Regions from separate parts of the Homo sapiens genome. Here region 1 is linked to region 2. A link means that fine-mapping ties the variant in region 2 to the expression of a gene that starts in the linked region. Tissue or cell type: whole blood. Region 2 holds a variant in brackets; the other region holds the start of a gene. All regions are shown on one strand. Distances are from middle to middle.

Region 1 (8,102 bases), 27 kb after region 2:
CCAGCCTGGCCAACAGTGAAACCCCATCTCTACTGAAAATGCAAAAGTTAGCCAGGCATGGTGGTGGGCACCTGTAATCCTAGCTACTCAGGAGGCTGAGGCGGGAGGATTGCTTGAACCTAGGAGGTGGAGGTTGCAGTGAGCTGAGATTGCACCACTGCACTCCAGCCTGGGCAACAGAGCAAGACTCTGTCTCAAAAAAGAAAAAAAAAAAGATAAAGAAAAAAAAATAGGTTCATTTAAAGAAAAATGTTAAGAAGAAAAGGACACAAGTGGCATTTTTAGATAGGACAAGAATCAGGGAGGTATTGGAATGACTGAGGTTTGGAAAACACTGAACAAGATGATCACGAAGTTCCCCGCCTCCCAGGTCTGAGAACCTGAATATGGATTAACCTATAATGCCAAGCCAACAGGTTTAAAAGGAGAGTTAACCAGTGTTAGATGTTAAAGGCACCCTAACACCAAATCCAGATCTTTCTCTCACATTTGTTCTGTGGAACTGACAATACTCTAGCCACTCCTGGTCAGTTAGGTTTGCTTACTCTGTCCTCTTGAAGATTCACAGTGTATATCACTATTAGGGATTAAATACTTTAACAATAAAGAAACTTATTGTATTCTCATTTAACTCTGCATTCTCAAAACATATTGCCTGCAAAACCTTTATTTAGAAACAGCTATTAACATTCCAGGGAACTAGTTTTCTGCAGGACACACTTTAGGACACCAGTTTTCTTCAGGACACACTGGTCTATATAATAAGCCTTTATGTTCATCTAGTTTACATTTTGTATCCATTATCTCATTGACCTTGTAACATGCAGCCAGATGGGTGATAATGACAGTAGTTCCATTACCCAAGCATTTACCCTGTGCCTCCTGTTGTACCAAGCACTCTTTACATCTGTGATTTCATTTAATCATCACAACAGCACTGCAAGGAAGGTCCTTATCTCTGACAGCTGAGGAAGCAGGCTCAAAGAGGGGGAAAAGGGCTCAAAGACTTGCCGTAAGTCACACAGCTGGAAAACAGCCCAGCTGGGATTTAAACTCAGGTTGATCTGATTCCAAAGCCTGTGCTCTTCACCCCCACAAGTTGAGTGGGGAATTAGGGTCCCCATTGTACACAGGAGGTGCCTTGCTTCTCCAGACACAGGCCGGGGCATACTTGGCCATCCTGCTCTATCTTGTCATCCCTTCCCATCCAGGTACCCACAGTCACCCCCATTCCTCTCAGCCTCTGAACTATTCCTTGGTGTCCCCTTCCAGTGTATGAACCCAGAGTTCTGAGACCTTTGCCACTTCAGACTTCATCATTGGCCACACGTGGTGGTGCACAGCTGTAGTCCTAGCTACTTGGGAGGCTGAGGTGGGAGGATAGCTTGAGCCCAGTTGGAGGTTGTAGTGAGTTATGACTGCACCACTGCACTCCAGCCTGAGTGACAGAACGAGACCCTGTCTCAAAATTTTTTTTTTTTTTTTTTTTTTTTTTTGAGACGGAGTCTCGCTCTGTTGCCCAGGCCGGACTGCAGTGGCTCGATCTCGGCTCACTGCAAACTCTGCCTCCTGGGTTCACGCCATTCTCCTGCCTCAGCCTCCCAAGTAACTGGGACTACAGGCGCCTGCCACCATGCCCGGCTATTTTTTTGTATTTTTAGTAGAGACGGGGTTTCACCGTGTTATCCAGGATGGTCTCGTGACCTCGTGATCCGCCCGCCTCGGCTTCCCAAAGTGCTGGGATTACAGGCGTGAGCCACCACGCCCGGCCTCAAAAATTTTTTTAAAAGACTCAATAATCGGAGTCGGTCCCTGCTGAAATTGGAGTAGTCACCCCATGGGTGTGGCCCTTGCTTACTAACAGCAACAGAAAAGGGTGGAGAGGCCCAGATGTGGGACTGGGCTCCAGGCCCCCTCCTGCTGAGTCAGAGGTGGAGAAGGGTGGTGAAGAGGAGGGGAGTGAGAGATGGAGAGCTGCCACTGACAGGAGTGGCCAGCTCAGCTGGCTTTCAGGCCTGGCCTGAAAAGGGACTGGAGCAGGAGTCGCTGTGGGCATTAAAGGAGCAGACCTCATTCTCCAAGTCAGTCTCTCAACAGCAAGGAAAACAGCAAGGGACTCCAAGGTCCTCCCCAACATTGCTCTTCATCCTAACCTCCACCAACCCTCTAAGTCTAGCCCTTAGGGACAAGGTCGGGTGCTTGAGAACTGATTGACCTGTGCGTTATAAGGACACAGCAGGCCCTAGATGACAAACATTTTCAACCCAAAGTTAAATAATGATGACATAGCTACCATTTCATTGACCACGTCATAATGCCAGGCACACTGCTAAGGGCTTTTTGTCCATTGTCTCATTTAACTCCTGCTGTAATCTTCTGCATTTTCCCCATTGCTATAATGAGGAAACGGAAGATGACCAAGGTTAAACAACTCACCCAGAGTCAAACAACTGGAAATAAGTGGGAGTCAAGATTGGTCTGGATCGAAAGCCTATTTCCTTAACTACCAGCCCATGCAACTTGGATCTCAAGTTTGACCCAGATAACATCTGTCTCTCTGTATCTCACATCTTGCTACAATTTGCAAAAACCTTGTGGGCTGGGTGGGGAAGTGCACACACCAGTTCTCTTAGTCTCAAAACCAGGTTAAGAGGAAGGTCCTTAATCCCCACTTCAGTCAGTCTCAAGGAAACTAAGTCTTGTGTGAGGATTTGCTCAAGTTACATCCCCTTTCTGACCTCAGTTTCCCCATTTGTAAACAAGGTAACCATTTATAACTACATAGACCCCTCAGGAAGTTGGGGTCTTCCCTACTTGCTCCTAGCCATACTTCTGGACTCACAGCCCAGGGGTTCTAGACCCTCACTCACCACGTACTTGGAGGGCGGGTCCTTGACAACGTTAGCGCTGGTCACTTCGAAGAGCAGCCGCTGGGGTGCCAAGGTGTTCCGGGACTTCTTCCAGAAATCCTGCAGCTGCCGCGCCAGGAGCTGACTGCCCCACTGCCCATCAGGTGGGGGGCTCCGTTCTGCAGACACATGACCAGTCATATCAATGGGCCTAGGGCCAGGGTCGACATCAACCACTGACGTGGCCTCACTCATCCTCCCAGTGTGAGGCAGGACTTACCCCCTTTTTACAGAAATGGAAACTGAGGGACAGAGAGGCACCGAGGAGCCAAACACCGTGCCTGGCAGACAGTAGGGGCTAAATTAATAGCTCCACCCTCAAAATATCGTTAATACATCATTTCCATTCGGATCCCAAGCCCTGTACATTTAATGCCTGCAGCAATTCTGAGATGAGAGTGAGTTCTCCCACTTGACACAAGGGAAAACTTGGCTCAGAGGGGGGTTAAGACTCTCTCAAGGTCACACAGCCAAGAGGTGGCCCAGGCGCTTTAAGAAGTGTGGGAGTTTCAGCTGGATCAACTTAGCGCCCTGGATGCTCTGGGAACGCGGCTGGGATGGAGGCCTAATCGAGCCCCAGGGTTCCCGCCTCCGTCCTCCTGCACTCGCCTGCGTCTTCTCCTGACGTCCCATCCCCGAGGGGCAGCTGGTCAGGGCCAGCCTCCTCGTCGTCCTCGTCCTCGTCGTCCTCGTCGTCCTCGGCGCTGGTGAAGCTGAGGGTGCCGCTGAGTCGGGAGGACAGGCCCTCGGCGTCGTCGTCCTCCAGCTCTGAGCTCTCCGGAAACTGCTCGGCCTCTGGACTGGCCGCCGCCTCCCCGGGGCCGTCGCCGGCCAAGGCGTGCCGCAGCCGGTGCAGGAGCCGGGAGGCCATGGCACCCTGGGGGGAGCGCGCGACGCTGTGTACCGGATCCCGGAGGAGGGGTACCCCAGCCCGGCGCAGGAGGAGGAGGGGCGGGGCCCGAACCGGAGAGGGAGGGGCGCGGTGAGGCCCCACCCCCTGGCAGTCCGAGGTCTTGCGAACCAGGGGACCCAGCCAGCATCGCTTTCCCCCCAACCCACTCAGCCTAGGACCGCGTTCCTCCCCGGAGGGGCTCAGGACCCTCCCGATGTCTCTTGCGCCGCCTCGTGCGCCTCTACCTCCTGCGTCCCACGGTGCATTCAGGGGCGCGCCGCGCCCCAGGGGTCCGGGTGCAGCCCCCCGCAGCCCATGGAGGTCGGCCGGGTTCTGCAGGGCTCCGCCGGGCTCAGGCCGCTCAGAGCGCCGCTCGGGCAGCTTCCTGCCGCCGCCCCGCCTCCTGCCCCGCCCGCTCGCCCGAGCCGCCCGAGAATCCCGGGCCCTTGGCTCCAGGAGGGACTTGGGAAGCCTGGGTCGGCCTGAGGGAGTCCCAGGCCTGCCGCAGAGTCATCCCAGTCCGGCCAGGCGCGTACCCTCCTTGAATCCTCCCACCCCACCCACGTCATCTCCAATCTGTCCCACTCATTTCCACCCAACGCTCTTTAACTTCACAAAGTAATTATGCAATAGTAGGGAGGCCATGTCTCCCGAGAGAAAACGAAGGGCCAGGAGAAGATGCGTGATTTGGGTTGGTTGGAATCTGACCTCGCTGAGCCTAGGTTTTCTCATATGTAAAACAGGAACAATACTGCTAAAACTAATTTTGCAGCTCTTGTAAGAACGCTCGTCCCGTGCCTGGCATAGAGCAAAGGCTGACGAAATGATCACTTACATAATGATTATTGTTTCTACAGTGTTCACAGGCTTGCACAATCTGATTTGAACCTCACACATGGGAAGTAGGCAAACAGGGAAACTGAGGACCAGAGAGGGTGAGTTACTTGGCTTAACCACACAGCTTGCCAGAGGTTTCTTTCTTTCTTTCTCTCTCTCTCTTTCTTTCTTTCTCTCTCTCTCTTTCTTTCTTTCTTTCTCTTTTGAGATGGAGTCTCACTCTGTCACCTAGGCTGGAGTGCAGTGGCACCATCTCTGCTTACTGCAACCTCCGCCTCCCTGGGCTCAGGTCATCCCTCCCACCTCAGCCTCCCCAGTAGCTAGGAATAGAGGCGTTCGCCACCACACCCAGCTAATTTTTGTATTTTTTGTAGAGATGGGATTTGGCCATGTTGCCCAGGCTGGTCTCGAATTCCTGGGCTCAAGTGATCCACCTGCCTCTGCCTCCCTCAGAGGTTTCTGAGTATGGGGCCTGGAGCCCAGGTCCCCTGCTGCATACTGCCCTTTTCCTGTGCAGCAGGCCTGATAATCTCAGTGGCTCCCCAGCTTTGTTTTATCTTTTATCCGCAGGGCAGCTGCAGGTCAAGAAAAAGTTATTGTGGCTTCCTGTCACAAAGCCTAGGTATCAGTTGTTAGGGCAGATTTTGATAGTTATACAATACAATAAATAAAATCAAAATCTCTCCAAAGTAGCTCCTACCCTTTCTGAGTGGCACAGGAGAGAAGGGTGGGGGAAAATGCCTTGGGATAAGCAGAAGGTATTTCAGCTCCCTGCCCTCCCATGTGAGCAGAAAGGCTGGGGTTCTTATTTTCTGAGGGTCCACTTTCTACATCCTGCTCTAGGCACTTTACTGTCACATCTCTCCCTCACAGCGTCCTGGGGAAGAGGCTGTAACTGGACATTAATGGTCCATTTTCAAGATGAAGAAACTGAGGCAAAGTGACTTCCCCAAGATCCACATCTGGGAAATAGAGGGGCTGGGATTTTAAGCCTAAGTTTGTGCAATTTTATTTATTTATTTATTTATTTTTAGAGAGGGAGACAGAGTCTTGCTCTGTCGCCCAGGCTGGAGTACAGTGATGCAATCTTGGCTCACTGTAACCTCTGCCTCCCAGGTTCAAGCAATTCTCCTGCCTCAGCCTCCTGAGTGGCTGGGACTACAGGCATGTGCCACCATGCGGCTAATTTTTGTATTTTTAGTAGAGGTGGGGTTTCACCATATTGGCCAGGCTGATCTGGAACACCTGGCCTCAAGTGATCCACCTGCCTCTACCTCCCAAAGTGCTGGGATTACAGGCGTGAGCCACTGTGCCTGGCCAGTTTGCACAATTTCAAACCTCGAATTACTCTTCATTTGGCTTATGGGCAAGATATTGGGACAAAAAAGGCATACTTCATTCATTAATTCAACACTCACTCATTCACCAACCATTGGTTAAAAAATAACTTGTCCTTCGGTATATGCCTTACATGTCTGGGCACAAAGCTGGTCTTCATGAAACCATGGGTTGTTAGAGCAGGAGGGCCCCTCAGAAATCTGGCCTATCACCTCCATTTTACAGATAGGTAGTCTGAGGCTTAGTGAGGGGAAGGGCTTATGCTGGGTCATATAAACAGTCAGAACTAGGAGATCTGAAGGTTGCGCATTCTCCACTATTATTATTTCTTCTTCTTTTTGCTTCCTTCTTCCTCCTCCTGCTTCTTCTTCCTTTTTTATTTATTTTTATTTATTTTATTTTTTTTGAGACAGAGTCTTACTCCATCACCCAGGCTGGAGTCCAATGGCACACTCTTGGCTCACTACAACCTCCATCTCCTGGGTTCAAGCGATTTTCCTGCCTCAAGTAATCCCAAGTAGCTGGAATTACAAGTAATCCCAAGTAGCTGGAATTACAGGCATGTGCCACCACACCCGGCTAATTTTTGTATTTTTAGTAGAGATGGGGTTTCACCATGTTGGCCAGGCTGGTCTCGAACTGCTGACCTCAAATGATCCACCTGCCTCAGCCTCCCAAAGTGCTGGGATTAGAGACATGAGCCACCGTGCCCGGCCTCTTCTTTCAGAGACAGAGTCTCACTCTGTTGTGAGGCTGGAGTGCAGGGGTGCGATCATAGCTCACTGCAGCCTCAAACTCCTGGGCTCAAGTGATTCTCCCACCTCAGCCTCCCAAGTATCTGGGACTACAGATATGTGCCCACCATGCCTGGCTAGTATTTTATTTTTTGTAAAGGTGGGGTTGCATGTTGCCCAGGCTGATCTTGAACTCTTGGCCTGAAGAGATCCTCCTACCTCTGCCTCCCAATGTGCTGGGATTACAAGTATGAGCTACCACCCACCATTCTTTGTTTTATTTTAATTTTTTAATTGGAGACAGCGTCTCGCCATGTTGCCCAGGCTGGTATTGAACTCCTGGGCTCAAGAGATCCACCTGCCTCAGCTTCCCAATGTGCTAGGATTAAAAGTGTGAGCCACTGCCCCCATTCTTAAATTCTGTATGGATATCTCCCTACAGCCTCCCTGAGAAATGGTCATCTAGCTCCTGTTTGGGTATACTCAGTGATACGGAGCTCATTACCTCCTGAGGCCACCTGTTCCCATTATTGTTCAACTATGACTATTAGGAAGTTCCCCCTTATATTGAACTAAATACCATCCAGTTCAGTTATTCTTATGTAGAATATAATATCTGTTGAACACCTGCTACATAGCAAGTGCTGAGCACTGGGAAATGTGATGATCTGTAGAACATAGAATGGGTTGTGAGCATAAGGTATGCTCAGTGCTATGATTGAGGAAACTACTAGAGACCACCTTGGACTCCCTGGTCTGGACACAGTGGGGGAAGGATCCCCGAGGAAGTGATGTTAGAGCTTAGAAAGATGATAGGGAAGTAGACAGATGAAGAGAGGAAAGATGGGAGTTTCTGGCAGAAAAAAACAGCATGTGCAAAGGCTTGAAGGTTCATAGAAGGTGGTGTTTAGAGTAGTCTTTTTTTTTTTTTTTTTTTTTTTGAGATGCAGTCTCCTTTTGTCGCCCAGGCTGGAGAGCAGTGGCATGATCTTGGCTCAGTGCAACCTTCGCCTGCCAGGTTCAAGTGATTCTTCTGCCTCAGCTTCCCAAGTAGCTGGGACTACAGGCGCCCACCACCACACCCAGCAGCAATTTTTTGTATTTTTAGTAGAGACAGGGTTTCACCATGCTGGCCAGGATGGTCTCGAACTCCTGACCTCGTGATCTGCCAGCCTGCACCTCCCAAAATGCTGGGATTACAGGCATGAGCCACCGTGCCCAGCCTAGAGCAGTATTTTAAAGTCTGATCAGAGCAGACAGCAACATGATGTGGAGGGAAGGAGTGAGATTAGAAGGGCCAATGGGACCTTGCTTGGCTACATTAAGCAATTTGGGCCTTACCTAATCCCTTGAATAAACAAAAGAACAAAGGCTGGGCTCAGGGGCTCATGC
Region 2 (8,102 bases):
TATTTTCAAAAATTTTTTTGAGATGGAGTCTCACTCTGTCACCCAGGCTGGAGTGCAGTGGCGTGATCTCAGCTCACTGCAGCCTCCGCCTCTCGGGTTCAAGGGATCCTCCTGCCTCAGCCCCCTGAGTAGCTGGGATTATAGATGCCCATCACCGTGCCTGGCTAATTTATGTATTTTTAGTAGAGTTGGTTTCACCATGTCGGGCAGGCTGGTCTCAAACTCCCGACTTTAAGTGATCCGCCCGCCTCGACCTCCCAAAGTGTTGGGATTATAGGCGTGAGCAACATCCAGCTGTAAATGGTTTTCTTTAAATTAGTTCACTTGCTTTACTTTGCTTATCAAGGAACTTTATGTCTACATTTTCACATAAGTATTAATATCATCTCACCTGACCACCCAGTAATATGTGTATTTGGCTGCAGAAACATGTACTAAATTACCTCCTAAAAACATTTCCCCCACCAACCCTCCAGTCCCCCAAGACACCCACGTATCACTCAAAAAGCCCAAGACAGTGAGCTCTGCACAGAGCCAGTTTGCAATAAATGATCCAAGAATGTCCTTTATAACATCACAACCAGCAGTCAACTTGTTTCTGCTAAAGACCTGTGCTGCTCATGAATTCACCGCCTCCTAAGCTATCTCAGTCCGCTATTGTCCTCAGGGGTGGAGCCTACAATTTCCTCATCTTTGTACTCCAGCTCATCTTTGTACTCCTGGCCCATGGTAAACACTTAGCCTCTTACCACAAGTTTGTTGAGGGAAAAATGGACAAGTGACATTAGAAAACTATTAGAGCCCAGTGGCTAAGTACAACAATTAAGAGCTCTGTCAGTAAATAGGCTGGGTCTAATTTTCAGTTATTTATGCTGTTGTTTTGAGACAGAGTCTCGCTCTGCTGCTCAGGCTGGAGTGCAGTGGTGCCATCTCAGCTCACTGCAGCCTCCTCTTCCTGGGTTAAAGTGATTCTCCTGCCTCAGCCTCCTGAGTAGCTGGGATTACAGGCACGTACCACCATGCCTGGCTAATTTTTTTATTTTTAGTAGAGAAAGGGTTTCACCATGTTGGCCTGGCTGGTCTCGAACTCCTGACCTCAGGTGATCTGTCTGCCCTGGTCTCCCAAAGTGCTGGGATTACAGGCATGAGCCACTGCGCCTGGCCCTAAACTATTTGTCTCTTAATGTTTGACTTCTCCTGGCTCTGTCTCCCCATCTGTAAAACAATACAATATTTGTGGACTATTTTCCATCTACAAGGCACTGCTGTAAGCACTTTACATGTATTAACTAATTTAGTGGGAACAGCAAAATTTGCCTCTGACAAGGTTATTCAGAGAACCAGGTCAGGTAATAAAGGTGAATGTGCTTTGTAAAGTATCTGCAAAATCTCAGGGCTGACAGTTTTTTCTGAGCAAGAGCCTGCATTGGTTTAGGGTGTCAACCAGCACCCCCACCCTGTTCCTGACAATCAGAATAAGTGTCACCATCACCCCTCCACAGGGCACCCTGGGTTTTTCCTTTGGAGCTCTACTACCACTTTAAGGAAATTATTATTTCTGTGATTATAGATTAGTATTTGTCTCCACAAGAGCAGAGATTCAATTTATATTTTTCAACAACGTATCTCCAGACACCAGCATGGAGTAACTTTTTAGTTAACAACTGCAAAAAACAAACAAAAAAACAAACAAACAAACAAAAAAAAAAACAAGGAAATCAATGAAAGTCAAATCAAATTGCCCATACGGTGGCATAATTTCCAAGATATATTGGTAAGTGAGAAGAGCCAGGTACAGCAGGTACAGAAGGCTATGTCTAAATAGCATGCTGCCACTTGTGTTAAAACAACAAAAAGATGCAAATGCATATACAAGACATGTTTGTTCAGCCTCAGTATCTCTCAGGAAGGTAACGCTGATTGCCTCTATATAATAATGCAGTGGGCCAGGCACAGTGGCTCATGCCTGTAATCCTAGCACTTTCCAAGGCCGAGGAGGGAGGATCACTTGAGCCTAGGAGTTCAATATCAGTTTGGGCAACATAGTGAGACCTCACCTCTACAAAAATAAAAATAAATAAATACATAGGCTGGGCGTGGCACCTCACAGCTGTAATCGCAGCCCTTTGGAAGGCTGAGATGGGTGTATAACTTGAGGTCAGGAGTTCAACACCAGCCTAGCCAACATGGCAAAACCCTGTCTCTACTAAAAATACAACAATTAGCCAGGCGTGGTGGTGCATGCCTGTAGTCTCAGCTCCTTGGGAGGCTGAGACAGGAGAATCACTTGAACCCGGGAGGCAGAGGTTGCAGTGAGCCAAGATTGCACCACTGCACTCCAGCCTGGGTGACAGAGCAAGACTCCATCTCAAAATAAGTAAGTAAGTAAGTAAATAAATAAAAATGAAATAAATAAATAGATAAAAAAGATAATGCAGACTGGGCACGGTGGCTCACATCTGTAATCCCAGCAGGGGAGGCTGAGGCGGGTGGATCACCGGGTCAGGAGATTGAGACCTTCCTCGCAAACATGGTGAAACCCTGTCTCTACTAAAAATACAAAAATTAGCTGGGTGGGGTGGTGCGTGCCTGTAATCTCAGCTACTTGGGAGGCTGAGGCAGGAGAATCGCTTGAACCAGGGAGTCAAAGGTTGCGGGGAGCCAAGATCGCGCCACTGCACTCCAGCCTGGCGACAGAGCGAAACTCCATCTCTCAAAAAAAAAAAAAACCAAAAAAAACCAAAAGCTAATGCAGTGGAGGTGACCCTTTTAGTCCCTTCTGTACTTTTTGAAAATATTTTTAATTATGTTAACCACTCAAACACAAAAACACTTTTTATTTATTTATTTTGAGACAGAGTCTCGCTGTGTCGCCCAGGCTGGAGTGTAGTGGCATGATCTTGACTCACTGCAACCTCCGCCTCCTGGGTTCAAGTGATTGAATTGTGCCTGGCCCAAAAACACTTTTAAAATTGTTCACCTTCAAAAACAAAAACAGGTCCAGCATGGTGGTTCATATCTGTAATCCCAACACTTTGGGAGGCTGAGGCAGGAGGACAGCTTGAGCCTAGGAGTTCAAGACCAGCCTGGGCAACATGGCAAGACCCTGTCTCTACACAAAAAATTGAAAAAAAAAAATTAGCCTGGCATGGGGGTGCATACCTGTAGTCCTAGCTACTTAGGAGGCTGAGGTAGTAAGATTACTTGAGGCCAGGATTTCAAGGTTACAGTAAACTATGACCCTCCCACTGTACTCTAGCCTGGGCAATAGAGCGAGACCTTGTCTCCTAAAACAAACAAAACAAATCCCAACCCACCAACCTGCTTATCAACCCTCCAATTTCCTTTCCTGCTGCTCCAGCATAAATCCTTCCTTCTAGCTAAGCAGGTCTCCTCATGGCTTTTGTATGTGCGTGCAAACATACATCACTGCTTGCTTTTTTTTTTTTTTTTAGAGACAGGATCTTACTCTGTTGTTGCCCAGGCTAAAATGTAGTGTGCAGTGGTGCGATCATAGCTCACTGCAACCTCTGACTCCTGGGATCAAGCAATCCTCCTGCCGCAGCCTCCAGAGTAGCTGGTACTACAGGCACACACCACTATGCCTGGCTACTTTTTGTATTTTTTGTACAGATGAGGTTTTGGCATGTTGCCCAGGCTGGTCTAGAATGCCTGGCCTCAAGCCATCTGCCTGCCTCAGCCTACCAAAGTGCTGGAATTATACGTGTGAGCTGCCACAACCTGGCCCCTAATTTTAAATTTTGTTTTGTGGAGACGGGGATCTCATTTTGTTGCCCAGGATTATAGTCTGGGCTGGTCTCAAACTCTTCATTTCAAGCAATCTCCCTGTCTTAGCCTCCCAAAGTATTAGGATTACAAGTGTGAGCCACCGTGCCCAGCCCATCACTGTTTTCTAATAGAAGCACGTCATGTTTACGTCTGTACTGACTCACACCATTTTTACCTCCAGGTTATTAATCTTCTTGTGGCAGGCAGAATGGTCCCTTGAAGATGTCCTTGTCCTAATCCTAGACTCTGTGAATA[C/T]GTTAGGTTACATGGCAAAGGAGAATTAAGGTTGCAGATAGAATTAAGGTGGCTATCAGCTGACTTCAAAATAGGGAAATTATCTGGGATTATCTGGGTGGGCCCAATATAATCACAAGGATCCTTAAAAGTGGAAGAGGGAGGCAGAAGAGGGAGTCAGAGACGTGATGACAGAAGCAAGGTCAGAGTGATGTGATGACTCAACCTGCTACTGCTGGCTTTGAAGATGGAGGAAGGGGGCCATGACCCAAGGTGTGTTGGGCAGCCTCTAGGAGGTGGAAAAGGAAAGGAAAAGGATTCTTTTTTTTTTTTTTTTTTTTTTTTTGAGATGGAGTCTCGCTCTGTTGCCGAGGCTGGAGTGCAATGGCACGATCTTGGCTCACTGCAACCTCCACCTCCCGGCTGCAATTCTGCTGCCTCAGCCTCCTGAGTAGCTGGGATTACGGGCATGTGCCACCTCGCCTAGCTAATTTTTGTATTTTTAGTAGAGACGGGGTTTCACCATGTTGGCCAGGATGGTCTTGAACTGCTGACCTCAAGTGATCTGCCCACCTTGGCCTCCCAAAGTGCTGGGATTACAGGCATCAGCCACTGCACCCGGCGGGAAATGGATTCTTACCCAGGGACTCCAGAAAGAAATACAGCCCTGCAGACATCTTGATTTAGCCTGCTAAGACCTGTGCCTGACTTCTAACCTAAATAACTCTAAGATAATAAATTTGTGTTGCTTTGCACCATTAAACTTGTGGTAATTCACTAGAGTGGCAAACAGAAAACCAATACACCTTCTGACAGCTCTCCATCTTTGGGGGCCCAGCTCAAGCCTCCCTTTCACTCTTACGTCTCTAGCTCGCAGTGATTTTTCTCTTCTGAGTTCCCGCAGCACCTATTTCCCTGAATCACATGGTTAGTACTTGATAACTCACTCATTCAATAATTATTTAATGCCTGCTATGGGCCACACCTTGTGCTAGCCACCTGAGATGGTCTTCCTGAAGGGTGTTTACGGGCAACTGTGGTTTTTTTTTTTTTTTTTTTTTTTTGTATTCCTCTCATTGCTTAGCAAGGTCCTACCCATAAAGGACAAGGTCCAAACACCTCACAATGGTCCCTAAAGACCCTTAGACTGCAAATGACTTCATCTCCTGCCAAACATGGTATCCCTCACTGTTACTCTAACATGCCAACCTTCTTTCATGTATCTTTGTCTTTGCTCCTGTAGGTCCTTCTGCACAGCAACTTCTGGTCAAATGCCTCCATGGTACTCAGTAATTAACCACAGATCTACTCTAGCACTCTACATTCATTCACAGCCCAGGGAAACCATCAATTCCAGTGTGAAGACTTCCCCCACCTCCCAGGCATTTGTCATTCATTTCTTTCTCCGTACATTTCTTTTTTTTTTTTTTTTTCCACATTCCTTTTAAAGCATTTATCACACACCAGTTTGCTTGAGTTCAAGTTTATCCTAGTTCTCTGGGGATAGTTTGAACACTTATTCATCTTTATGTCACCTATACCCAGCATAGCACTGGACTTCAGAACAGTGGAAAGAATATAGCCTGGCTGTCTAATTGAGGAGCTTTGGTTGAGCATCTCAATCCAAGTCTCAAACTCGGATATGCTTTAACTCTGAGTTGGCCCGCATGCTCTGAGTTAAAATTTGAACTGATTCAATTTTTTTAAATGGGAAAATCCACATAAAGTGTGGATTTCTGACAACTCTTGCCCAAAATTCTGGCAACACTAGATCTTTATTTTCATATGGCAGCCATCAGCTGGAGCTGATTAGATGGCATCTACTCTCCATTTGGCCCATTTCACACTTCTGTTGTCCCTAGCACAAAGACCTGGTGTTGGTTGCTATTTCATCATTCTTTTTCTTAAAGTAAAATTCAAAGTTAAAACTTTCTTACATTGGGTTGTTTCACCTAATCCCTGAAGGCATTTGAGTTTTCAACTCCTGTCTTAACCTCTAAGCCTGACTTCTCATCTGTCAAATCTTCTCATCTGTCAAATGCAAAAAAATAACATTTATCTATAATTCTGAAAAAAAAGCCCTGCAGGGTAAAGCATGCATAGAGAACACTGCCTGGCACATGGAAAGTGTTTGAAAACGGTTAATATAAGGAGCTCAAAAACCATTTACAAAATGAATGAATAGACCAGGCATAGTGGCTCATGCCTGTAATCCTAACACTTTGAGACGCCGAAAGATCGCTTAGTCCAGGAGTCTGGGAACAGCCTAGCCAACATAACAAGACCCAGTCTGTACAAAATCAAATAATTAGCCAGGCATGGTGGCGTGCACCTCCAGTTCCAACTACTTGAGAGGCTGAGGTGGGAGGATCGCTTGAGCCCAGCAGTTGAAGGCTCAGTGAGCTGATTGTGCCACTGCACTCCAGCCTGGGGGACAGAGTGAGACCCTGTTTCAACAAATATATAAGAACTAAAAACTGAATGAATGAATGAACGAACATTCCAACGACCATGTGACTGTTTTGTAAAGAGGAGACTGATGAAGGAAATTATCGCCAAGGTGTTTTTATCCGTTTATGAAAGCCATACTTTGTATTTGGGTTGCTGCAGCTGCTCAAAACAATGGGAGAAACTGCAGTTATAAATTCCAGAAAAGCCTGTGAATGGAGTGAAAGTGGAGTGGGTGGTCAAAAACCAATGGCCGTGGAGGCTTAGCTCTCTTCACAAGGCACACAGCAGGTGCTCAATGAGTGCCTGTTGAATGAATGGCCACGCAGCCCAATGCGTGCCTATGCACCCCTCCTCCTCCAGGCAGCCCTCCGGAGGTCCAGCCTCCTCCCCACCCTCTTGGCCCGCCCCGCCCCGCCCGCCCTTACAGGATGTCTTCGCGGATGGAGGTGCCATGGTTGAGGTTGTGGAAGCGGACGGAGACGCAGTCCCTGAGAATGAAGGAGCACCTGTTCTCCCTTTTGTAGGCGCTGAAGCACTCCTTGAAGTCCTCATAGGTCTTGAAGCAGCTGCCCAGCTCCATGGCCGCCCCCACAACCCACACTAGGGGCTGGTCCCAGCCCGGGCCCAAGATCACACCAGGGGTCAAAGGTCACACTATGAGGGTTTATAGGCAGGCGTGGGCCCAGAATGCCTTAAGGGTCCGCCCCAACTGGGTGGCCTATTCTGGAACTCAGGGAGGAACCCTAGGCCTGACCGGGTTACAAGAGGAAGGGGGTGTATTTGCTATCTGACAGGGGAAATGACACTCAGTCCATATTATCCAGTCCCGAGGTTCCGCCTCCTCAGCGACATATCCAGTCACACACAGGATTCGCAGATTGGCATTCATTTTCTCCAATTGCTAGAGAAAGAGGGCCACAGCCACCAGCGGACTGACAGGAGTCCTGACCAATCATAACCTAGATTCCTCCTTCCCGGGGTCTGCAGGAGACTTCCGGTTACTAGGGCAATCTGCCGGAAGAGTCAGGTTCTGTGTATGTCTCCGCGTCTTCCGCGGAGCGGGTGTGCAGGGCCTGCAGCATTGAACTAGATGTCGTCCCCGCAGGCCCCAGAAGATGGGCAGGGCTGTGGCGACCGCGGCGATCCCCCTGGGGACCTCCGTAGCGTCTTGGTCACGACCGTGCTCAACCTCGAGCCGCTGGACGAGGATCTCTTCAGGTAGCCGGCAGCTCCTGCCCAGCATCCCCTCCTTTAGGGCAGAAACTTGATCTTGACTGCCGCCGCCCGGGGCCCCTGGCTCCGGGACTAGTATGGCTCTGCGTGGGATGCACCCTCTGCCACGATTAGGAGAGAACTCGCCCCCAACAGAGCTGTCCTCTCTGCTCTGGCTTCCTCCCTTCCTCTCCGCGCTGCGAGGTCTGCACAGCTGAGCAAATATAGTGGTGACCTGAGAGACCCTGCTCGGCAGCCTGCCCTAAGCCTTCACGGGGGAGCTAGCCCAGAGAGGGCAGTGATTTGCCCAAGGGCACACAGCTGATGGATCAGCCTTAAAACCGACGCCGCAGCTCCTTGTGTCTTCAGTATCCTTTTCTTCTCACAATATCCCGCCCCCAGTACCATTTGGTGGG

The links. PIP is the estimated chance that this variant, and not a neighbour inherited with it, causes the effect.
Region 1: SNX21 starts here. The variant in region 2 is fine-mapped to the expression of SNX21 in whole blood (TOPMed, PIP above 0.99).

Annotation. Positions count from the first base shown.
Region 1 is chr20:45,829,885-45,837,986 of GRCh38, reverse strand. SNX21 (sorting nexin family member 21) reads right to left here and starts at 4,188. Exons shown (of 4, transcript NM_033421.4): 1 at 4,047-4,188; 2 at 3,519-3,786; 3 at 2,871-3,028. The coding sequence starts at 4,067. It also overlaps a transcript of TNNC2 not described here. RefSeq lists silencers at 3,605-3,654, 3,695-3,814, 3,835-4,144.
Region 2 is chr20:45,856,778-45,864,879 of GRCh38, reverse strand. It overlaps ACOT8 (acyl-CoA thioesterase 8), which reads left to right and starts at 7,488. Exons shown (of 6, transcript NM_005469.4): 1 at 7,488-7,692. The coding sequence starts at 7,565. ZSWIM3 (zinc finger SWIM-type containing 3) reads right to left here and starts at 7,266. Exons shown (of 2, transcript NM_080752.4): 1 at 6,900-7,266. The coding sequence starts at 7,054. The variant C/T (reference allele first, on the strand shown) is at 4,045.